7 linked regions of the Homo sapiens genome follow. The protein of the gene in region 5 purifies or fractionates together with the protein of the main gene of each other region. This does not show direct contact. Each region holds a gene or a part of one and is shown on either strand. Other genes may lie near its edges. The genes, in order: POLD3, COQ7, POC5, CRY1, RCN2, CORO1C and EMC2.

What was found.
Region 1: the proteins of RCN2 (region 5) and POLD3 purify together in Homo sapiens (tandem affinity purification; one large-scale study listed by IntAct). This does not show direct contact.
Region 2: the proteins of RCN2 (region 5) and COQ7 purify together in Homo sapiens (co-immunoprecipitation; one large-scale study listed by IntAct). This does not show direct contact.
Region 3: the proteins of RCN2 (region 5) and POC5 purify together in Homo sapiens (co-immunoprecipitation; one large-scale study listed by IntAct). This does not show direct contact.
Region 4: the proteins of RCN2 (region 5) and CRY1 purify together in Homo sapiens (co-immunoprecipitation; one large-scale study listed by IntAct). This does not show direct contact.
Region 6: the proteins of RCN2 (region 5) and CORO1C fractionate together in Homo sapiens (co-fractionation; one large-scale study listed by BioGRID). This does not show direct contact.
Region 7: the proteins of RCN2 (region 5) and EMC2 fractionate together in Homo sapiens (co-fractionation; one large-scale study listed by BioGRID). This does not show direct contact.

Annotation. Positions count from the first base shown.
Region 1 is NC_000011.10:74,599,082-74,602,581, reverse strand, and holds part of POLD3 (DNA polymerase delta subunit 3), read right to left. Parts: intron 1-3,500. UniProt on the Homo sapiens protein: Accessory component of both the DNA polymerase delta complex and the DNA polymerase zeta complex.
Region 2 is NC_000016.10:19,074,114-19,077,613, reverse strand, and holds part of COQ7 (NADPH-dependent 3-demethoxyubiquinone 3-hydroxylase, mitochondrial), read right to left. Parts: intron 1,894-3,500; coding exon 1,754-1,893; intron 309-1,753; coding exon 240-308; intron 1-239. UniProt on the Homo sapiens protein: Catalyzes the hydroxylation of the 5-methoxy-2-methyl-3-(all-trans-polyprenyl)benzoquinone at the C6 position and participates in the biosynthesis of ubiquinone.
Region 3 is NC_000005.10:75,689,938-75,693,437, forward strand, and holds part of POC5 (centrosomal protein POC5), read right to left. Parts: intron 2,564-3,500; coding exon 2,459-2,563; intron 626-2,458; coding exon 446-625; intron 1-445. UniProt on the Homo sapiens protein: Essential for the assembly of the distal half of centrioles, required for centriole elongation. Acts as a negative regulator of centriole elongation.
Region 4 is NC_000012.12:107,024,050-107,027,549, reverse strand, and holds part of CRY1 (cryptochrome-1), read left to right. Parts: intron 1-3,500.
Region 5 is NC_000015.10:76,951,821-76,954,893, reverse strand, and holds the end of RCN2 (reticulocalbin-2 isoform a precursor), read right to left. Parts: 3' UTR 501-3,073; downstream 1-500.
Region 6 is NC_000012.12:108,725,019-108,728,518, forward strand, and holds part of CORO1C (coronin-1C), read right to left. Parts: intron 1-3,500. UniProt on the Homo sapiens protein: Plays a role in directed cell migration by regulating the activation and subcellular location of RAC1. Increases the presence of activated RAC1 at the leading edge of migrating cells.
Region 7 is NC_000008.11:108,481,624-108,485,123, reverse strand, and holds part of EMC2 (ER membrane protein complex subunit 2), read right to left. Parts: intron 1-3,500. UniProt on the Homo sapiens protein: Part of the endoplasmic reticulum membrane protein complex (EMC) that enables the energy-independent insertion into endoplasmic reticulum membranes of newly synthesized membrane proteins.

The sequences.
Region 1 (3,500 bases), on a different chromosome or scaffold from region 5:
CTGGTAGCTCAGTTTGGGGCAGTAGCAGTGCAGGTAGTAATTAGTGGATGAATTCTGGGTATATTTTAAAGTGAGAAACAACAGGATTTGCTGATATACTGTGTTGAAGTGTAAGAGAAAGAAGAGTCAAAAATGACTGGACTAGGCAACCCAAAGAAGGAAGCTGTAATTCACTGAGATGGGGGAAAAGCAGGAAAAGCAGGTGTTGAGGGGAGAAGTCAGGAGTTAGGTTTGGGGGCATATTAAATTTGCAATGCCTATTAGTCACTGTTGATGTTGAAAAGGTTGCTAGAGAGTCTTGTCTGAAACATAATTCCTTGTTATAAAGCTTTCAGTAGCGCCAGGTGTGGTGGCTCACGCCTGTAATCCCAGCTCTCAGGGAGGCAGAAGCAGGAGGATAGCTTGAGCACAGGAGTTCAAGACCTGACTGGGCAATATAGCGAGACCCCATGTTCCACAAAAAGGGAGGAGAAAAAAAAAAGTGTAACAAAGCTTTCAGTAGCTTCTCATCCCCTAAGGATCAACTTCAAATCTCTAGCAATGACAGGTAAGACCCTTCTTGTTCTGGGCTCTGTATCTCTGACCATTCCCCATCATACCTACACTATCTTCATCCTTAATGAAACATTCTACAATTCTCTTTATTCCTTTGTATATGCCCTTCCTTCTGCCTAGAAGGCTCTTCTCAGGCCTCAACTACCTAATTTCTCATCAAGACAGCAGCTCAGTTGTCACCTCCTCTATGAAGTATGAACCCTTCCCCAACACCATCAGGTCACCAGGGCACATCTTTTTTTTAAGAGATAGAGTCTCACTCTGTCGCCCAGGCTGAAGTGCAGTGGCGCAGCTCTCTATAACCTTGAATTCCTGGGCTCAAGCCATCCTCCTTCCTCAGCCTCCTAAGTAAACAGGACCACAGGTGCATGCTACCATGCCTGGTTATTATTTTTTCTTCCTGGTAGAAACAGGCTTTTGTTATATCTCCCAGCCTGACCTCGAACCCCTGCGCTCAAGTGATCCTCCTGCCTTGGCCTCTCAAAATGCTAGGATTACAGGAGTGAGCCATCATGCCTAGACAATGAGCTTCTGCCATCCAAGCTCTAACAAATTTTATCCCATATCTATTATTACAGCACATATCACCCTGCCTTCTAACTATTTATTTTACATATGACGCATCCCCTCTAGACTGTTAACACCTTGAGTACAAAAAGGTGCCCTAGTCAGGATTTTTGCTGATTCCTCCTCTTTGCCCTCTAATGTTTCTTTCCATTACAACAATTGTGTTAGAAGGATAAATGAGCTAACAGATCCACAAACATTTTGGTTTATTGATGCTAGTTTGGACCATGCTAAAGGAAGACATGATAGGCAGGTACCATGCCCAAAATGCTTGCAAGCTTGCTGGCCAAATGCACTATCTTTTATCCACAACTAATAGTCCTGCCCATATCATCAGTCATTGTCCTCTATGCACTTGTCTCCCCAAATTGACCCCAGTTCTTCTCTCTTATATTAACAGAAAATGCAAAGCAAACTCTTATTTTAAAAAACAATTCTTGTGGCTGGGTGCGGTGGCTCACACCTGTAATCCCAGCACTTTGGGAGGCCAAGGCAGGCAGATCACCTGAGGTTGAGAGTTTGAGACCAGCCTAACCAACATAGAGAAACCTCGTCTCTATTAAAAATACAAAATTAGCCGGGCACATGGTGGCGCATGCCCGTAATCCCAGTTACTCGGGAGGCTGAAGCAGGAGAATCGCTTGAACCTGGGAGACAGAGGTTGCAGTGAGCTGGGATCGTGCCATCACACTCCAGCCTGGACAACAAGAGCAAAATCCTATCTCAAAAAAAAAAAAAAAAAAAAAAAAGGAAAGAATTCCTGCCTACTTTTTGAGTCTTTAAAACATGTTTTATCTAATTTAAGCCAAACTTTTCTGTTTTTTTGGAGATAGAGTATCGCTCTGTCGCCAGGCTGGAGTGCAGTGGCGCGATCTCAGCTCACTGCCATGTCTGCCTCCTAGGTTCAAGTGATTTTCCTGCCTCAGCCTCCCAAGTAGCTGGGACTACAGGCACACGCTGGCTAATTTTTTGTATTTTAGTATTTTTGTATTTCAGTAGCGCCAGGTGTGGTGGCTCACGCCTGTAATCCCAGCTCTCAGGGAGGCAGAAGCAGGAGGATAGCTTGAGCCTGGTCTCAAACTCCTGAGCTCAGGCAATCTGCCCTCCTCGGCCTCCCAAAGTGCTAGGATTACAGGCATTAGTCACCGCGCCCAGCCTAAGCCAAATATTTTTTAATAAACAAAATATAAAATATTCTTAAATAAGAATGACAACAGGCTGGGCACAGTGGCTCATGCCTGTAATCCCAGCATGTTAGGAGGCCGAGGCAGGCGGATCACGAGGTCAGGAGTTCAAGACCAGCTGGCCAGCATGGTGAAACCCCATCTCTACTAAACATACAAGAAGTTAGCCAGGCGTGGTGGCATGTGCCTGTAGTCCCAGCTACTCGGGAGGCTGAGGCAGGAGAATTGCTTGAATTCTAAAGGCGGAGGTTGCAGTGAGCCGAGATTGCACCATTGTACTCCAGCCTGGGCAACAGAGCTGTCTCAAAAAAAAAAAAAATAATAATAATAACAACATATATGACTTCTTACAAGATACACTTCCTACACATGATTAATTATAGCTTCCCATTTTAATTCATTAATCTTCCCTCCTGATCAGTTCCACCCATAATGTTCCCCAGGATGAGTACAGTGTATTGCCCATACCGCTTTCTCTAACCCAACTTAATTATTTCACAGCATTTTCACAGTCTGAAATTATCTTGTTTAAATCAACCAGGGGAGGGACCCTGTCTGTCAGGTTTACTGTTGTATGACATAGCCTGAAATAATGCTAAAAAAAAACAGTATGAGGCCAGGCACGGTGGCTCAAGCCTGTACTCCCAGCACTTTGGGAGGCCGAGGTGGGCAGATTGCGAGGTCAGGGGTTCAAGACCAGCCTGGCCAAGATCGTGAAACCCTGTCTCTACTAAAAATACAAAAATTAGCCAGGCGTGGTGGCAGGTGCTGTAATCCCCACTATTCAGGAGGCTGAAGCAGGAGAATCGTTTGAACCTGGAAGGTGGAGGTTGCAGTGAGCTGAGTTCCGCCACTGCACTCCGGCCTAGGCAACAGAGCGAGACTCCGTCAAAAAAAAAAAAAAAAATTACTTGAGAGAAATGTTTGTGAAAATACTATAGTGAGGCCGAGCATGGTGGCTCATGCCTATAATCTCAGCACTTTGGGAGGCTGAGGCAGGAGGACTGCTTGAGTCCAGACGTTCAAGACCAGCCTGGTCAACACAGCAAGATCCCAACTCTACGAAATAAAAAAATCAGCTAGCATGGTGGCATGTACCTGTGGTCCCAGCTACTCTCAGGAGACTGAGGTGGGAGTATCCCTTAAGCCTAGGAGGTCATGGCTAAAGGAAGCCATGTTTGAACTACTGCACTC
Region 2 (3,500 bases), on a different chromosome or scaffold from region 5:
GTGTCTGGGAAAAAAAAAAAAAAGCTTCTGGGGAAAAGGAGAAGGCATAAAGCAAGAAAGGAGATTCCCAATCTGGAGCAATAATGCGTTTGCTTGCTTTTTGTCAAAGCAACGTCATTGGTTTTCTCTCCCTTTCGCTGTCACTTTAAAATGTATTTTTCTGGCAACAGAAACCTCCTGCCCCTTCAGCCTCCCAAATAAGGAGTCCCAAAGCAGAACAGGTAACAGTAGGGCCCTACCAATTCTGCATCATGGTCGAGGCCTATGTCATGGTGCTCAAGCTCTTCATCCCGAAATTTCTTTATCAGCTGGTTAAATAAAAAGACACCAAAGCAAGTTAGCCTTCCAACTCTCCTGCTGTTCCATTTCATTTTGGAGGCTAAAGCCTCTTATTATGGCCTAAGACAGGGAGGCCAGCTTTTCCTCTAAAGGGCCAGAGAGTAAATACTTTGTTGCAACTACCCAACTCTGCCACTGTAACCAGAAAAGCAGCCGGAGACATGCAAACAAATGGACGTGCTTGTGTTCCAATAAAAGTTTATTTAAAGAAACAGGTGGCTGGCCACAGGCCATAGTTTGCCAACCTCAGATTTAGACTCTAAAAAACTAAACAGTTCCCTTATTTGCTGTGGAAAATTATCTCAGGATATCTATTCATTTATTCAATCTAAAGGGTTCCTGCTCACAGCATCTGCTCAGAATCTACCAATGATAAAGAAGTGGGCCGGGCGCGGTGGCTCACGCCTGCAATCCCAGCACTTTAGGAGGCCAAGGCAGGAGGATCACCTGAGGTCAGGAGTTCCAGACCAGCCTGGCCAACATGGTGAAACCCCGTCTCTACTAAAAATACAAAAATTAGCTGGGCGTGGTGGTGCATGTCTGTAATCCCAGCTACCTGGGACGCCGAGGCAGGAGAATCGCTGGAACCCGGGAGGCGGAGGCTGCAATGCAGGCGGAGACCACTGCACTCCAGCCTTGGGGACAGAGTGAGACTCCATCTCAAAAAAAAAAAAAAAAAAAAAAAAAAAGTGAACAGCACCAGGTGGTGTGGCTCACACCTGTAATCTCAGCACTTTGGGAGGCCGAGGCAGAAGAATCACTTGAGCCCAGGAGCTCAAGACCAATCTGGACAACATAGAGAGAGACTGTGCCTACAAAAAATTTTAAAAATTAAAAATAAAATAAGTGAACAGGACAGGGCTCAAGAGACAAGGGTTCTGGCCGGATGTGGTGGTTCATGCCTATAATTCTAGCACTTTGGGAAGCTGAGGAGAGAGGACTACTGGAGCTCAGAAATTCAAGACCAGCCTGGAAAACATAGTGAGACCCCATCTCTTAAAAAAAAAAAAAAAAAAAAAATTAGCTGTGAGTGGTGGCTATGTATGTAGTCCCATAGCTACTCGGGAGGCTGAGGCAGGAGGATCACTTGAACCCAAGAGTTTGAAGATGCAGTGAGCTATGACTGTGCCACTGTACTCCGGCCTGGGCAACGGAGCAAGACCTCATCTCTAAATAAAAAGAAAAAAGACAAAGGAGACAAGGGTTCTAGTCCCAGCTCTGTCTGTGCTGTATGGCCAGGGCAGACGGGTTCACCTCTCTGTTCCTCAGTTTGCTCACCTTTAAACTGAGGCACTGACCTGAGCCTCTAAACCCCCATCATCCCCTAACAATCTCTAACATGTTTTCCTCTTACCCAATTGCTATCTGCCATTTTCCTCCTTGAGCAGCCCCGTTCTAGAGCACGGATAAATACCTGAAGAAGTTCCTCGTATTTTTCAGGGTCCTCCTCCATCAGCGTCCTGATCTGGTTGTTGTAGTGATGTGCTATGCTCTCTTCCACCGCCACGGTGCAGGCCATGGCACCTTCCTTCCCGAGCAAGGCGGTCCCCGCCCCTGGGATTGTTAAACCCAGACCAGAAAAGTAAGAGACAGATATGACCGGTAATGGAGACCATCTGTGGCCAGGGCTTCTTAACCTCTGCACCAGACATCGGGCCGGGTCATTCTTTGTGACAGGGGCTGTCCCATGCATGGTGGGATATTTAACTGCATCTCTGACCTCTACCAACTAGATGCCAGCAGTGCCAACTAAGTTTTGACAATCAAAACTGTCCCGAGGGCTGGGCACAATGGATCACGCCTATAGTCCCAGCACTTTGGGAGGCCGAGGCGGATCACCTGAGGTCAGGAGTTCGAGACCAACCTGGCTAACATGGTGAAACCGTCTCTACTAAAAATACAAAAATTAGTCAGTGTGGTGGTGGGCGCCTGTAATCCCAGCTACTTGGGAGGCTGAGGCAGGAAAATCGCTTGAAGCCGGGAGGTGGAGGTTGCAGTGAGCCAAGATCACGCCACTGCACTCCAGCGTGGGTGACAGAACAAGACTCCATCTCAAAAAAAAAAAAAAAAAAAAATGTCCCTAGGTATTGCCACATGTCCTCATCAGGGGGACAAACTCACCCTGAGGGAGAACCACTGTTTTAGGAGACACTGGATCCCAGTGTTAAACCTGGAATTACACAGTTAAGAAAAACCATTCTCTTTTCAATGCTGTTTTATCCTGACCGTGGCCAAGAGAAGTCAGCATTTGGGGTGAGTATATCTTTGATCTTTTATACCATTTATTCTTCTCCGTTTTTTAAAAGAGTGAACAGATCTCAGGTTGAGAATCGTTGTCAGGGAACAGTATTTGGCTGCAACTGAATTCTACTAGCTTTTTTTCTCTGTTGTTTATTTTTACTGTATTTTCTATTTATAATACTGACATTAGGCCAGGTGCAGTGCCTCACGCCTGTAATCCTAGCACTTCGGGGAGGCCAGAGAGGGAAGATGGCTTGAGGCCAGCAGTTTGAGACCAGCCTAGGTAACATAACGAGACCCCATCTCTACAAAAAAAATAGAGCTGTGCGTGGTGGCATGCGCCAGTAGTCCAAGATACTCAGGCTCAGAGGCTTAGGTGGGAGGATCACTTGAACCCAAGAGTTTGAGGTTTCAGTGAGCTACGACTATACCACTGTACTCCAGCCTGGGCAACAGAGTGAGACCCTGGCTCTGGTTTGTTTTTTTTTGTTTTGTTTTGGTTTTTTTTTGAGACAGAGTGTCGCTCTGTCACCCACGCTGGAGTGCAGTGGGCCAATCTTGGCTCACTGCAACCTCCAGCTCCCAGGTTCAAGCGATTCTCTGGCCTCAGCCTCCCAAGTAGCTGGGATTACAGGCACGCACCACCATGCCCGGCTAATTTTTGTATTTTTAATAGAGTCGGGGGTTTCACCATGTTGTTCAGGCTGGTCTCGAACTCCTGACCTCATGATCTGCCCGCCTCGGCCTCCCAAAGTGCTGGGATTACAGGTGTGAGCCATCACGCCCGGCCTTTTTTTTTAAAGTACTGACATTAAGATTCTATCTTAAATAAATTTAACCACACACAAAAAAAGGCAGTCAATTTAACCTCGGAAAAATATGAAGTAAACAGAATGAGGTCATAAGAGGACACAGCAAGA
Region 3 (3,500 bases), on a different chromosome or scaffold from region 5:
GTGCAACAGTGTGATATAGCTCACTGCAACTTCTGCCTCCCAGGTTCAAAAGATTATCCTGCCTCAGCCTCCCGAGTAGCGGGTATTATAGGCATGTGCCACCATACCCAGCTAATTTTTTTAGTAGAGACGGGGTTTCACCATGTTGACCAGGCTGGTCTCAAACTCCTGACTCAGGTGATCTGCCCGCCTCGGCCTCCCAAAGTGCTGGGTCTACAGGAGTGAGGCACCGCGCCCAACTAATAATTTCAATTTCTATACAACTCCTTATATCAACCATGTAAGAATATACAATAAACATTAAATTAACACAAGAATAAACGTTTTCATTTTTTTGTCTGCATTCTTGATTAAAGACCAAAAGAAGAAGTCTATTAATTAATAGTGAGTCTATCTATCTTTTTATTGTATTAGAAGAAAGTGAAAACCAGAAAAAGATGCTTACCATAGCAACTTTGGCTTCATAATCATTGGAAATCTGGATACAAACTTCTTCAGCTCTTGCTTGACAAGCTCTTTCTACCACATCTTTCCACTGCTTTTGCACTACGGAACGCCAGACTTTCCAGACTTTCTTCAGTAAAGTTCTCTGGTAGTACTGGTCAGCTAGTTTACCTTCATAAACCTAAATAAAAGTAAAATATAACTTCAAAAACACAGTTGATTGATAAATATATTGGTAGTAATAATAAACATAACATGGTGGTAAGTGTACATATACACATTATTTAATTCTATGTAATCATATTATTCTCATCTTGCATATAGGAGAACAGGCTTAGAGAGGTTAAGCAAGCTACGTAGTTCACATAAGTAGATGAGTAAAGCCAGACTTGCCTGACTCCAGAGACTGAGCTCTTATCCATTACATCATTGCTTTATGCAACTAATCAAGTTAGAGAAAAAGAATACAACCAAATGAAAGAAAATGAGCAAATCACCACTTGCCATCTTAGTTATGAATTTAGCAGGACCAGGAGAATAACAGAGTGGCTAGAAGGCAGGAAATGGTGGTGGCTGTGGCTTCAGATGACACTGCTTTCTCTTCAGTTTGATGGCCACCACAAGCAAGATTTAATTTATAAACCCTGCCATCATATATGGTGCCAATCCAAATAAAAACTTATGCTATTTTTCTTTTATCAATGAATTTAAATTCTTTTGAAGAAGTAGTTCCAATTCTCAATTTCTTCAGTTTGAAAAACTATCCAAAAGTGACAGTAGCCTCAACTATTCTGGCTAACATTTAAAAATAAATATGTATTCTCATTATTTCACTTGACAAGTTTCAAAGTAGAGTATAAATATTCATTTTAACCAGCTTACTTAATGTGGATTTAATCTACTGGGATTAATTAAAAAAATGAAAAATCCAGAAAGTATTCTTAAAGGAGAAATCTTATTCCAGGATAAAGTAGGTTGAGCATCTCTAATCCAAAAATCTGAAACTTTTTGAGTGTCAGCATGACACCACAAGTGAAAAATTCCACACAGAAGTACTTAACACAAACTTTGTTTCATGCATAAAATTATTAAAAATATTGTATACAATTACCTTAGGCTATATGTATAAGGTGAAATATGAAACATAAATGAATTTTGTGCATAAGGTGTGATATGAAACATAATCTAAAATCCAAAATTCTCCTGGTGCCAAACATTTTGGATAAGGGATACTCAACCTGTACTAGCTTTTTCCTTAAATACTAATCTCTTGGAAACTAAATACACAGAGATTATTCCATAGCTCACATGAATATACATGGAAAGCATATATATATATATTCATCTCCTATATTCATGTGTCTCTAAACTATGTCTTGTTGTGGGATATACTCATACTTTTCCACTTTTGATACAACAATTTAGTATTCTCTTTCAGTTCACTATTTACTGATATACCAACTCAGCTCTTACTTAAAATAAAAGATGTTCAAGTTTAAATGATATACTACAAGCTAAGGATAACTTTTAAAAAGCTGTACAGGTATGGCTTTCTCTGACTCTCACTCTAAGGCAAGTCTACATAACAAACATTTATACTGTGATTTAATGTATAAATATAGTAAAGCCTCTTTATGAATAAGTTGTATTCAGGCATTTTAAAAGTAGAAACAATATAGGAAGCATTTGATATGTTAAACATAACTTCTTTCTCCAATAACCACATCTGAGGGGGTTCTATTACCAGGGCCTTTACAATTTAGGAACAATCCTTATTAACCTACTATGAAGCAGGAAATGATGTATCTATTGTAATATATATATATTATATGTCAATAAGATCTAAACTGTATTTTTTCCAAACTACATCAAAATCAAATTCCTTTGAAATAAGAGGAACATTAAATCACAAATTCATTTTGACTTATTAGAAAACAACTATAATAAGTGATCCTGAGCACTTCTGAATTCAGAAGTCTAACATCCATCAGCTGTCTTCTGCTTTGACACTTACATCCTGTCTGGCTCTGACATGGCCGATTCGCCAGTGGAAGAATGTTCTCATCAACTCTATCTTTTCCTTTTGCTTGCCTATGGCATGAGACAAGCTAGAAATCACCTGTAAACAGCAATTAACCCAATTATTGTGATATTAAAATAACAGCAATTGGTAAAGTGATTTTCTCATATATCAAAAAATGCTAGAGAGGATAGGTATGGATCACTACTATATTCATTCAGTTAACCTCATTATTATCTTTAAAAAGATGGTAAAACTTTCTCACATGAATATACTAGATATCAACTAATGAAAGGGAACAAAAGAAGAAGGAAGTCTTCATTATGTGTATATGGTAATCACCAATAAAAAGTTTATGTATATGCAAATTAGCTACTGACATTCAATTCAGGTAAAACAATTATACATTTGAAAGTTCTCCTATATACACCATGTCTTTATTCACTAGATTTGAGGGCAGGGGCCAGAATATTTAGATATTTAAATATCTTTCTGGTCCCTACTACTATCTTGGATATAGAAGTTCCTCAACGACTGTCCAATGATTTTCTGGATTAAACAAACCTATAAAAGCAAATAATAGTTATATATGTAACTATTAATATGTTATAGTTATATATATAACTATATATTATATATGTTATATATACCTATTAATAACATGTTATACATATAACTATTAATAACATATATAACATATGTCATACATAAAATGTTATATATATAAGTAAATATATATAATTAATGTTATACATATAACATATTAATAACATTATATATAACTAATGTTATTAATGTTATATGTTGATGTACTTCTTCAGTGATATTATTACTCTTGTTCTTAAAAAAAAATTCAGAAGGCTTTAAAATCCTAAGATAATATTCTCTCTTATAAAAGAACTGAATAACTGAAATAAATTTCTAAAAATAGTCACATTAGAAAGAGATTTTGTAAATTGGGCACATTTACCAAGAGATATTTATAACTGCTCTTTAAATAATTTCCAGAGAGGAAAAGGGCATACATTCTAAGCTA
Region 4 (3,500 bases), on a different chromosome or scaffold from region 5:
TTCAGTATTGTAATTAAATAATATGAGGACTGTGCTTCTATGTAGGCAGTACAATTATATGAAGGGATATAGTGAGTTTTACTATCATTTGGCCTATTTAAAAAGCAACCTGTTGTATGTAGTTAATAGCAGTAATAACGGAGCCATCAAATGGGTGTAGTTCAAGAAAATAATATATATGCCAAATTGGAGAAGGTCTGAAAGTATGTTCCTGTTAAGATGATATCATATGTATTTTCAGTGGAATATATTAAAAATAAATCATTCATTTCATTCAATATTGAGTGTCCCAGAGCACATGCATTTCTATTACATTAAAGTTGAACTTGGTGTGTTCTTTGGAACACACTGAATCTGAACTCTAACAGATCTAATCCTTTCCCAGTTAAGGGTAAAGGATTGAGCATTAGATTTTGTATAGTTTTGAAGTAACATTATTCGTTCAGCATTAAAGAGAAATCACACACATCACTGAGTTGATACTTTGAACCTGGGCTGTTAGAGGTATTATCAAGGAAAAATTATATGCTTAGAGATTAGTTGAGTCTTAATTGCGTTGTACCTTGTTTTATAATATTTATAGTCACATTGACCTTGCTACTGGGAAAGGTTTCCTTCAAATCATAGTTCAAAGTCACATTCAGATGAAGTTGTGAATTCAAAGTAATTCTGTATACAGGTGTAGGCATCCAACTAATTCACGTTTTCTTTTGTCATGCCCAAGTATTTACATATAGAAATGCATGGGGTGTTTTCTTTAAAAAAAAAAAAAAAAAAAAACAGGAATTATTCTCAAGGGAAAATAACAACTTCTGTTTGATACATATCTACCATGTGCTAGAGACTCTACTAGGTGATTTTATGAGGCTCCTAATCCTTTCAACAGTTACACAAGACACCCCTACTAGGTCATTTGATCCTGTTTCTAATCTTTTCAACAAATTATACAAGGCACATAATGAGATTTGTTTGCCAAATATAGAAACCAAAATATAGATTAAGAAAACTGTAGTTAGGGCCAGGCCTGATGGCTCATGCCTGTAATCCCAGCACTTGGGGAGGCTGAGGCAGGTGGATCACCTGAGGTCAGGAGTTCAAGACCAGCCTGGCCAACATGGTGAAACCCTATCTCTACTAAAAATACAAAAATAATTAGCCAGGGTGGTAGCACACTCCTGTAATCCCAGCTGCTTGGGAGGCTGAGGCGCAAGAATTGCCTGAACCTGGGAGGTGGAGGCTGCAGTGAGCTGAGATCGTGCCACTGCACTCCAGCCTGGATGACAGAACAAGACTGTGTCTCAGAAAGAGAGAGATGGGGAGAACTGACTTAATTTGAAATCCATTAGGAGGAGGTTTTATTTTATATATATATGTAATATATATATATATATTTTATATATATATGTAATATATATGTAATTATATATAATATATATATTTTATATATATGTTATATATATAATATGTATAATATGAGGTAAAATTTTTTCATCCTCTGAAGGACATAATGTACCTCAGAGGTTCAGAAGATGTAGAAGTGACTTTAAGATGGAAGATTTAAGGTTAGTGTGATATGAACTTAAAGGGATAGGAATTGGGAAAGGTATTCCAAGCCAAGGAAAGGCCCTGGAGCACATTCCAGGAGATTGAATGTGTGCTGAAAGAGAAGTTTGGTTTGGTGTGAGAGAAAGGGGTATGAGGTAGGAAATCAACCTAGAACCCTAGGTTAGTAGCCAAGCAAAATGATTTGTTGTGTATTGTATAGGGAATGAGTCGTTGAAAACCTTTGTATGGGAAGGTGTGCCTCATGAAGATCTGGAATTGCATATAAAATGAATTAGAATGGAGAGAGATTGTTAGTAGGCAGATCTATTTTAAGGCATTGCAGTAAATACAAGCAAGAGATAATATGAACTAGAATTATTGTAGCAAAAACAGAAGTGGAAAGGAAGGAGAACACTAAAAAGTAATAGATAACATATAATTGTGCTTACTATGGGCAGGCACTATTCTAAGAGCTTCGCATATGTTAATTTATTTAATCTCACGAACAATGCTATGAGACAGGTCCGATTACTGTCCCAATTTTACAGATGAGGAGACTAGATAGGACTTTTCAGGATTGATTTAAGGATAGTAATTTGTTGATAGACTTGTTAAATTATAGGACATCTGTGCAATGAAGTACTATGAAACTATGAAAATTGATGCTGTAGAAGTACGTCCATTGCCTTGAAAAGACGTTCACCATGTATTAAACCAGATACATATGTAGTGTATCTCGTTTTTCTTCTACTTTGAAGGAATGTATGCTAATTATCAATTTTAAACTTTTTTTATGAAGTTAAAAAAATGTGTTTGTTTCTCTGTTTCTCACCCCTATCTCAAACCCCCACTCCCTAACGGGGAGATATGATTAATAGCTTGGTAAGTATTTTTCCAATTATTTTCTTGTGCACATATAAACAAAAGTAGATGCATGCAATGTAAATTTTATTTTATCAGAGTAATATATGCAAATAGTTTTAAAAGCCTTATAACAAAGAATAGCATCATAGTGTGTTCTACTTTAGCCTTCTCTTTTGCTTTTCTTTTTGGATCTTTTCTACTTAAAATATTTGATTACAAAATACCTATATTATTTTTTAAGTGTTTCTATTTTTTAAATCTGTGCAGCTTTTATGTGAAATGAGAGATGTAAGTTATATCTGTGGAAGAAGAACACCATACTTAAATACAGCTTTTAGTCTTTTGTTTCATGAAGTACCAAAACAAAATTAATTCTTAGGTTTCAAAACTTTTCCTATTGTAACACATTACTTTAGTCCATATCATTCTGTGCATTTGTTTGGTTCATATAATGTTTATTAAGGCCAGGCCTGTGATGGTTCATGCCTATAATCCCAGCACTTCGGGAGGCTGAGGTGGGAGGATGACTTGAGGCCAGGAGTTCGAGACCAGCCTGGGCAACGTGGGGAGACCCCACCTCTACAAAAACTACAAAAATTAGCTGGGCATGATGGCATATGCCTGTGGTCCCAGTCACTCTAGAGGCTTAGGTGGGAGAAGTCAAGGCTGCAGTGAACCATGATTCCAGCCTTAGCAACAGAGCACAATCCTGTCTCCAAAAAAAAAAAAAGAATGTTTATTAAAAGCATTCGGAATGCTTATTCAGCCTATTAAGAAAGGGAAAGATTATTAATTAATCCATACTTAATTCTTCATTTTATGAATTAATCATGTCCTTTTGGTTTGTTTCTTATCCCATCTTACTGTCATTGAACTCTTGCACCACATAGAATTGTTTTGACCAAAAAGTTGAATATGGAGAACTCTTGCTGTTCTCAGTTCTTACTCACTTCTGGTGGGGAAGATTTTGAAACTAATGGTACAACAGAGATTAGGGGATTATTATTGCCTTAGATTACCCCCTCCAGGACATTTAAGTTTTGTACTGTTTCAATTTAAGAAAACTTAAAATTGCTAGTTCTTTCAACTTC
Region 5 (3,073 bases):
GACAGGCCAGCAGCTGGCACAAAAAGACCTTAGTTTATGCTTTTAGTGTGTCATTGTAATGGAACAGTCTCTCTACTTAGGTTACCAATCACTGCTAATGGTACAATAACTGAGCAAAATGTTGATGCCCTCTGTTCATTGGAACCTGGTCTCAGAAGAAAAATATCTCTGTGGAACAGAAAGCAAAAGTAGGGTTTTTTTCTTTAAGGTATGAAAAATCATGATTAAAAGCTATGAGATTTTTAAAAATCCCCATAATCACTTTAAAATAGTTTTATAAGCTCAAATGGTTTCCTTTCTACAGCTCAGGAACTAACTGGTTAATTTGAGATAAAGATAGGGCAAACTGTAGGTATTCAGCAGTACTTGTTTTTTTTGTGCTTGGATTGAGGTGTTTCCCCCCCCCCCCGCCAAATAAAATAGAGACGTTTTAGTAGCTGCACTGGAGGCCCTTAGGTAATTGGTTACTAGTTATAAAAAATTTTATAGCAGGCAGGAAATCTGGCCAAATATTTATTCGACAGAACTCAAATGTTGCAATGAAGCAAATTAGTTTTTACAGTTGTTTAAAAACTTTTACTCTAAGTGGCTTTCCTAAATCATCTTCCTAAGTGAAAAAGTGTAAGTTTGAGTTGACATTTCTCACTCAAAAGGAGGTATTGTAACACAAAAACGTTTGAGAAACAATAGCATACATTTATCCTCACATTTAAATTGCAAAGGAATGATATTCTGGAACAGGCAAAACTGTAGAGACAGACCATTAGGGAAATGCAAATCAAAGCCACAACGAGATACCACGTCTCACCCAACAGGATGGCTACTATTAAAAAAAAAAAAGAAAAAAAAAAAAACAGAAAATAGCAAGTGTTGGTAAGGATGTAAAGAAACTGGAACTCTTGTGCACTATTGGTGGAAATGCAAAATGGCACAGCTGCTGTGGGAAACACTATGGCAGTTCCTCAAAATATTAAAAATAGAATTACTAGTCGGGCGCGGTGGCTCACGCCTGTAATCCCAGCACTTTGGGAGGCCAAGGCGGGCGGATCACGAGGTCAGCAGATCAAGACCATCCTGGCTAACACGGTGAAACCCCGTCTCTACTAAAAATACAAAAAATTAGCCGGGTGCGGTGGCAGGCGCCTATAGTCCCAGCTACTCGGGAGGCTGAGGCAGGAGAATGGTGTGAACCCGGGAGGCGGAGCCTGCAGTGAGCCGAGATCGCGCCACTGCACTCCAGCCTGGGCGACAGAGCGAGACTCCGTCTCAAAAAAAAAAAAAAAAAAAAAAAAAAAAAAAATATATATATATATATATATATATATATATATATATATAGAATTACTATATGATCCAGCAATCCCACTTCTATGTATAATATATATCCAAAAGAACTAAAAGCAGGATCTCAAAGAAATATTTGTACACCCATATTCATGGCAGCATTATTCACAATAAAAGGTGGAAGCAACCTGTGTCCATCAAAGGGTGAATGGATAAGCAAAATGTGGTATATGCAAACAATAAAGTATTGTTCAGCCTGACGAAAGAAATTCTGGTAACAATATGGGTGAACTTTGGGGACGTTATGCTAAGTGAAGCCACTCACAAAAAGACAAATACTATATGAGTCTATTTTAATAGACACAAACTAGAATGGGGCTGGGCGCGGTGGCTCATGCCCGTAATCTCAGCACTTTGGGAGGCCGAGGCAGGTGGATCACCTGAGGTCAAGAGTTCGAGACCAGCCATGCCAACATGGCGAAACCCCGTCTCTACTAAAAGTACAAAAATTAGCCGGGCGTGGTAGCGGGCATCTATAATCCCAGCTACTTGGGAGGCTGAGGCAGGAGAATCGCTTGAACCTGGGAGGTGGAGGTTGCAGTGAGCCGAGATCGCACCACTGCACTCCAGCCTGGATGACAAGAGTGAGACTCCGTCTCAAAAAAGAAAGAAAAAGAAAACTAGAATGGGAGGCTGGGCACGGTGGCTCACGCCTGTAATTCCAGCACTTTGGGAGGCTGAGGCAGGTGGATCACCTGAGATCAGGAGTTCGAGACCAGCTTGACCAACATGGTGAAACCCCATTTCTACTAAATACAAAAAATTAGGGGGCATGGTGGTGCCCGCCTGTAATCCCACCTAGTCGGGAGGCTGAGGCAGGAGAATCGCTTGACCCCAAGAGACAGAGGTTGCAGTGAGCCGAAATCATGCCATTGCACTCCAGCCTGGGCAACAAGAGCAAGACTCCATCTCAAACAAAAAAACTAGAATGGTGTTTGCCAGGTGCTGAAGGGAAGGGGAAAGGGGGCTTTATTGTTTAATGGGTATAAATTTCCGTTTTACAAATGAAGTTCATGGAGATGGAAGGTGGTAATAGTTTCACATTTTGACTGTATTTAATACCATACCACCGAACTGTACAATTAAAAACTGTTAAGATGAATTTTGTTATGTGTATTTTACTACAATCTAAAAAATTATGAACAGTAAAAAGATCAGTATTGCTTGGGGTTACAGGGAAGGGAGGGATGAATAGGTGGAGCAGAAAGACTTTAGGGCAAGGGAAATATTCTACCACACTACAATGGTGGGAATATGTAATTATACATTTGTCCAAACCCAGAGCATGTGCAGCACCAAGAGTGAACCCTAATGTAAACTATGCACTTTGGGTGACAATGATATGTTAACAGTTTCATCGATTTTAACAAATGTACCACTCTGGTAGGTACTATCTCATGACATATAGGATAGGATAGTGGGGGAGGCTGTACGTATGTGGGGCAGGGGACATATTGAAACTCTCTATACTACTTTTTGCTCAATTTTGCTGTGAACATAAAACTACACTAAAAAAAAAAAAAGCCTATTTTTAAAACTGCAAAGGAAAGAACTAAGTAAGGCAAACATGATATGCTAGCTTTTCCTCTGAACGTCCTGGCTTCCTTTAAATTTATATCATAATCTAGACATCATTTTCTGTCCTGCAAATTGGCCCAATCAGAACTACATATGAGCCAACATGTGCACATCCCATTCAATTTTCCCCTTTGAAGTTGTACCTGAACTC
Region 6 (3,500 bases), on a different chromosome or scaffold from region 5:
AAAAATCCATCTTTTGCCAGGAACTTTCCTTAAAATGGACAGACAGACACACAGACAGAGAGACTGAATACACAGACCTGAATAGAGAAGACTGTCTGAATAGACATTTCCAATTCAGACAGATGCAAAAACACTGGAGGTGTTTTTAAGACCGCCTTCCCATCCTAAAATTAGACATTTTTTGCCCTCTTCAGTGACTCAACTTTGATTCAAAGTCTAAAATCCTCAGGTGGGAGTAGGAATCCATACCCTTAATAGCTTAATGTCAGATGTAAAATGTATTAAACTTACTCTATTTGCTTCTCTGCAGTTCCATTCATTAACAGACATTTAAGAGAGAAGAGAGGGAACAGGAATGTATTCAGTACCTACTCTGTATTAGGCACTTCATATAATTTTCCTTGCTTAATCTTGCCAATGACCCTGCAAGGTAAGCCTTTTGCATCTCCACACTACAGAGGAGGAAAGTGAAGCTCAGGGAGGTGAGGGAGCTGGCAAAGTCACAGCTAGCAAGAAGCGGAGCCAAGAGTGAAGCCCAGCTCTATCTGGCCCTAAAGGCCTGCACCCTCACGGCCTCAGTTCCCCTAAATACAAAACTCTCTTAGAACGAGAACTACAGAAGGTACCCATAGCTCACTGTCCCTAACTAGACAAAAAAGTTGACATTTTTCTTTCTCTTCTGTACTACCTTGCCACAATCCAAGCTTTAACGAACACACAAAGAAAAGGTATCCCGAAATGGCCAACTGGTTTCTCCTAATTCTCAGAAAGGTGCTAAGTGAATTTATTTATTTATTTATTTATTTTTTTGAGACGGATTCTTTCTCTGCCGCCCAGGCTGGAGTGCAACTCTGTCGCCCAGGCTGGAGTGTGATGGCGCAGTCTAGGCTCCCTGCAGCCTCTGCCTCCCAGGTTTCAAGCAATTCCCCTGCTTCAGCCTCCTGAGTAGCTGGGACTACAGGCGCGTGCCACCACACCCGGCTAATTTTTGTATTTTTAGCAGAGACAGGTTGGCCGTGTTGGCCAGGCTGGTCTCAAACCCCTGACCTCGTGATCTGCCCGCCTCAGCTTCCCAAAGTGCTGGGATTACAGGTGTGAGCCACCACGCCCGGCATGAAATATTTTTAATTAAAGTATTTTAAAAATAAACATAATCTGGGAGGCCGAGGCGGGCGGATTATGAGGTCAGGAGATCGAGATCATCCTGGCTAACACAGTGAAATCCCATCTCTACTAAAAAATACCAAAAAATTAGCCGGGTGTAGTGGCGGGCGCCTGTAGTCCCAGCTACTTGGGAGGCTGAGGCGGGAGAACGGCGTGAACCTGGGAGGCAGAGCTTGCAGTGAGCTGAGATCGTGCCACTGCACTCCAGCACTCTAGCCTGGGCGACAGAGTGAGACTCTGTCTCAAAAAAAAAAAAAATGAACATAAGAACACAAAATATAACTAAAGAATACTAATTTGAGTCAGACACCCCAAGAGAGGAGAGCATGAACAAAAGAATGAAGAGGCTGGGCATGGTGCATCACGCCTATAATCCTAGCACTTTCGGAGGCTAAGGTAGGAGACTTGCTTGAGCCCAGGAGTTCAAGACCAGCCTATACAACATAGTGAGACCCCATCTCTACAAAACATTAAAAAAAAAAAAAAAGAATGAAAAGAAAGTACACACCCTTAAAATCCAATTTACAACCATTCTCATGAGTGTGACAGGGGTAGTTCCAGTACTAACTGACCAAATACTATCAGGGTCGGCCTGTATGCATTTGGTGTGACTAAATCGTGTTCGCTGGCCATCTACCCTACTGAGGAGACTGTGCGCCAGTCATTACTGTTCATCGGGGGAAAGAACCTGGACGAGAATGTTCTGCCATTGGGGAAATGTTTTAAACACTCAGTTTTACATTTGAGCACTTTTTGGTAAGAGCTGGACTTGGATGCCAGAAGGGCAAAAGGGAGTTACCCCATTCATGTTATTTTAACATAGGCAATAAAGACATTCATGATAATCAGAGAAACCCACTGACCTCAGGATCTTTCCAGTTAACTTCAATAAACAATCATTCATTCAGCGAATATCCAGTAGGCACTAATGACCAAGCCATGAACAAGAGAATCTCAGTCTGCCTTCCATGTGAATTGCTCTATTGCATTCTGCCTTGTATGGAAAGGCACCTTTCAGACTATTAGCTCAAATTCAGGTCCAGTTCTTTGTAGCAAACAGTCCTGATGAATGTACAATACATGAGGGCAGGGACAAATGTCTGCCTGTGAGATGAGGAAGTTTTCATGGAGGAAAAACCTCATGACCCATGTCCCAAAGGACAAGTGGGATTCTAGAAGTAGAAAGGCGATGAAGTAATAAATTCATCACAAGATTTGAAAGCTGGGATGTTTCAGGGAGTGGCACTAGAGATGAAGACATTGGAAGGGGAATAGTGAGAAATAAAGCAGGCTGAAATCAGAGCCCACCTTACTCCACACCTCATTAAGGAGTCTGAACTTTATTTTGTGGGTAAAGGTGAGGTCACCAGAGGATTTGAACAGGTGAATGGCATGTTCCCTGATGAATCCTTTTTCATCTATAGCATACCTTAAAATATATTAATTCAAACCTTTCCCCAGTCCTCTCACATTTGGGTTTCAACTTATATAACCAAAATATTGAGGAGGGTGTGGTTTAAGGTCTAATTTCTAACTAGTAAGACCCCACTATTCATAAATTGGAAATCATCAAAATTTAAAATCTTTGTTCCTAAAAAGGGGCACCATCAAGAAAATGAAAGGACATGTCAGAATCCAAGAAAATTTTTGCAAATCATACAGCTGATAAGGCACTTGAATCTAGAATACATGAACAACTTTTATAACACCAATAAAAAGACAACCCATTAAAAAACGGGCAGAGCATTTGAATGGACATTTCTCCAAAGATTACACATACAAATGTTCACCAACCACATGAAAAGATGCTCAACATCATTAGCCATTAGGGAAACACAGATGACTAGAATCAAAAAGTCAGAGAGTAACAAGTGTTGGCAAGAATGTGGAGAATTTAGAACCTTCATATACTCTTGGTGAATACCGTAAAATGGTGCAGCTGCTTTGGAGAAGTCTGGCCATTCCTCCAATAGTTAAATATAGAGTTACCATACAACCCATCGATTACATTCCTAGGTAAATACTCAGGAGAAATGAAAACGTATGTTCACAGCATTATTCATAATAGCCAAAAAGGAAAAACACCCAAATGTTCATCAACTGATGAATGGATAAACAAAATACGGCATATCCAAACAATGGAATATTATTTGACCATTAAAAAAAAAAAATGAAGTACTATACAATACTACCACACATATAAACCTTGAAAATATGCTAAATAAGGGCAAGACACAAAAGACCACATAGTGTATGATTCCATTTACATGAAACGGGAGGACTTCTAAGGGGTATGGGGTTTCTTTTTGGGGGGGATGAAAATGTTCTAAAATTGA
Region 7 (3,500 bases), on a different chromosome or scaffold from region 5:
TCTGACCCCTCTGGCTACAGCTTAACATTATGATTCCCTCACTTCCTACACTCTAAACCATTAGATTAGTTTCTGTAGCTGAATCCTGATTTGAAAAAGTAAATAAAGGATGTTTCTAGGGGAAATGCCAGAGGAAAAAGAAAAAAAGCTTCTCATAAAAATCAAGATCACCTTGCCTTTCAAAAGGCATCACGAATTTAAGGAATTCATATGTTAAATATGGTAACAGCAATATCACATTTAAAATTTTGTCTTTTTATAATTTCCCCTGAGGACTAAAGGCTGTGAGGCATGCTTATTACTTCTGTTATCCAGTTAATAAATTCACTTACACAAGGATTTACCAGAAACAGAAAGCTTTTTCATTTACCACCATTTATGAAACATAAATAGGAACGGTCCTAATCAGATACTTAAAGGTCTAATTCTGAGAAAAAGTTTTATGGGTTGGGGGAGGGGTACAGAATAGGACATCACATAGTAACATTACCACGTAACATTTATTCTAATTGCTTTTAAATAGCAAAGTAAAAATAAAAAAAATTATGTAGAGCTAAAACCATAACATGTATTTTTAAATACAGTATTTTTCTTGGTTTATACTTAAACATAAAAATAATACAGTGTGATCTTTTAAAATTAGCTAATTTTAAAGAGTCAACTGAGATGGTGTCAACATTACTCACAACCAGTGCAATTTAGAATAAACCAAATAAATTTACTTGTGTCAGAACAAATAAAAGAAAGTTGGAAATACAAATCTATCACTTCAAATTTAATCTGACATGCAATTATTCTGTCTATTCCAGAATTGTATGGCAATTTAACTGATTAAGTCAGAATCATTTTTTCCCTCAAATCATGATTTAATTTTCTGTTTCCCAAAAGGATAGTAACAGAATCACTGCTGCAATCATAAATATCATATAAATCACTAGCACAGATTTACCAGTGCAACAAAGAAGGATTTATCTGGAAAATCATTGTGAGTAGGTTCACATTAAAGTTTTTCATGTGCATTAATCAAATGTGTCTGCTTCTACTGAACATGCTAAACCAATTACCTAATTGACGAGCAAATAGTAGCCATATTCTGTTTCATCATTAAGTGGAAACAAAGAAAGAAAAGCAGTTCTTGAAACCTAATTTTCCCTAATTTATAAATACGTAGAAAAATCCCATACGAAATATTATATACTCTATACCGGTTTATATTCCTAGATATGATTAAGAAATTCTCACTGAGATCCCAAAGATTTACCTAGTTATCAAGAATGTCATTCTCTGAAAGTTATATACTCTTTTACATTATTCACAAATACTGTATTTTTGTTTTCATACAGTTAGATTTTGCTTAAGTAAATCTTTCATAATTCTCTGTAAGATCTATAAGAAAACTCACCAGAAAAAAACACAAAAACAACCAAACAATAAAAACTTGCTTATCAAATTCAGAGGTCAGTGATTCATGCATTGTAATAACTGAGATACCTTGCTTGGGCTTAAATTTACCTTTACATAATTTGTGGAAAATACATGGGTAGACAAAGTAATAGGAAAAATGAAATGGACTGTAAATGAATGAATCTCAAAAACATGCTGAGTGAAAGAAGCCAGACACAGAAGAGCACATAACCTATGAACTCATTTATACAAAGTTATAGCACAAGCAAAACTAATGTTTGGTGATAAAAATCAGATCAGTGCTTGTCTGTCTCCCAGTGGGGGATGAGGTTGACTGCAAAATGGCAGAAGGAAAGTTTCTTGGGTGATGGAAATGCTATTTTGAGTGGGGGGCTGGTAAGGGGATGTACACATTTGTCAAAACTCAGACTGTATACTTAAAATATATGCACTTGATTACATGTAAATTATATCTCAATATACCTCAAGGGGGTCTTGTCACACTGAAGAGACAGGGAAAAGGAAAAACATAATAACTTATGTTTTAATTTCTTTAATTCTCAGAATATTTCATTATGGCCATCTTGCAGAAGAAAAGATACAGCAAGAGATGTTAGGTAATTTATCCAAGTTTGCATAGCTAATAATTATATCAGAGTCAAAATTTGAACCCAGACAACATGGGTTCAAATCTGTAATCTTCTCTTTACTACATTGAACTAGCTTCCATGGACGGGACTCATGATGGAACACAAAGATGGACAGAAACACTGGATATCCATATGGGGAGCAATGGACCCCCTATTTCACATCATACATAAAAATCAATTCCAGGCCAGATGCGGTGGCTCACACCTATAATCCTAGCACTCCATTGGGAGGCTGAGACAGGAGGATTACTTGAGGCCAGGAGTTTGAGACCAGCCTGTGCAATACAGCTGGACCTCATCTCTACAAAAAATTTAAAAGTTAGCCGAGCACGGTGACATGCGTCTACAGTACCAGCTAGTTGGGAGGCTGAGGCAGGAGGATAACTCAACCTGGGTGGTTGAGGGTGTAGTGAGCCATGATCATGCCACTGCACTCCAGCCTGGGCAACAGAACCAACCAGATTCTGTCTTAAAAAAATAAAAATTAAAAATTAAAAATAAATCAATTCCAAATGGGTTGTGGATTAAATACGAAAAGTAAAAGAATAGAAATTCTGAAGACACACAGAATTCTTTATGACCGTGAGTAGCAAAAGATTTCTTAAACAGAACACAAAAAACACAAACAAATGACTGAGGCATTCGAACACATTTCATTTCAGAACTTCTATTCATCAAGATCATATGAGCAAAAAAGTAAGAAGTTATACATATTTGCTTATACATATAACTAAAAAAGGGCTCATAAGCAAAAAACTAAAGAAATAAGTCATGCAAACCAATGAGAAAAACATTTCACGAAAGAGGACATCCAAATGGCAACTGATCATCAGGGACATGCAAAATAAAACCATGAAGTACCACTCTACACATGTACCAGAATGGCTGTAATTACAAAGACTGACAGAACCATGTGTTGGTGAAGATGTGGGGCTATTAGAACTCTTACCGCTGGTGGGAGTAAACTAATTTGGAAAATTGCCTTTAACTACTAAAGTTAAATATACATACATTCTATGACCCATATTTTCACTCAAAGGTATACAGAACTGCACATATATTCCACCAAAAGACCTGTACAGCAATATTCAGTATAGTTTATTCAAAATAGCCCAAACAGAAAATATTCCAAATGCATAGCAATAACTAAATTATAACATTCATACAATGAACTACAGAAGAAAATGAATGAACTACAGACACAAACAAGGATAAATCCCATAAACTGAATAATGATAGAAATATGCAAGACAAAAATGAATACATACTGGCTGATTCCATAAACTATAGGGTTATAAGTGAGTACTCTTAAGGAATACAAAAGGAGAAATTAAGAGGACTTACCAAGAGAGCTTTGGGATGCTGCAATGTTTATATTTATTAGCCTGGATACATTTACCTTATATTAGTCACTGAAAGGCACATTTATGACTTGCATCCTTTTTT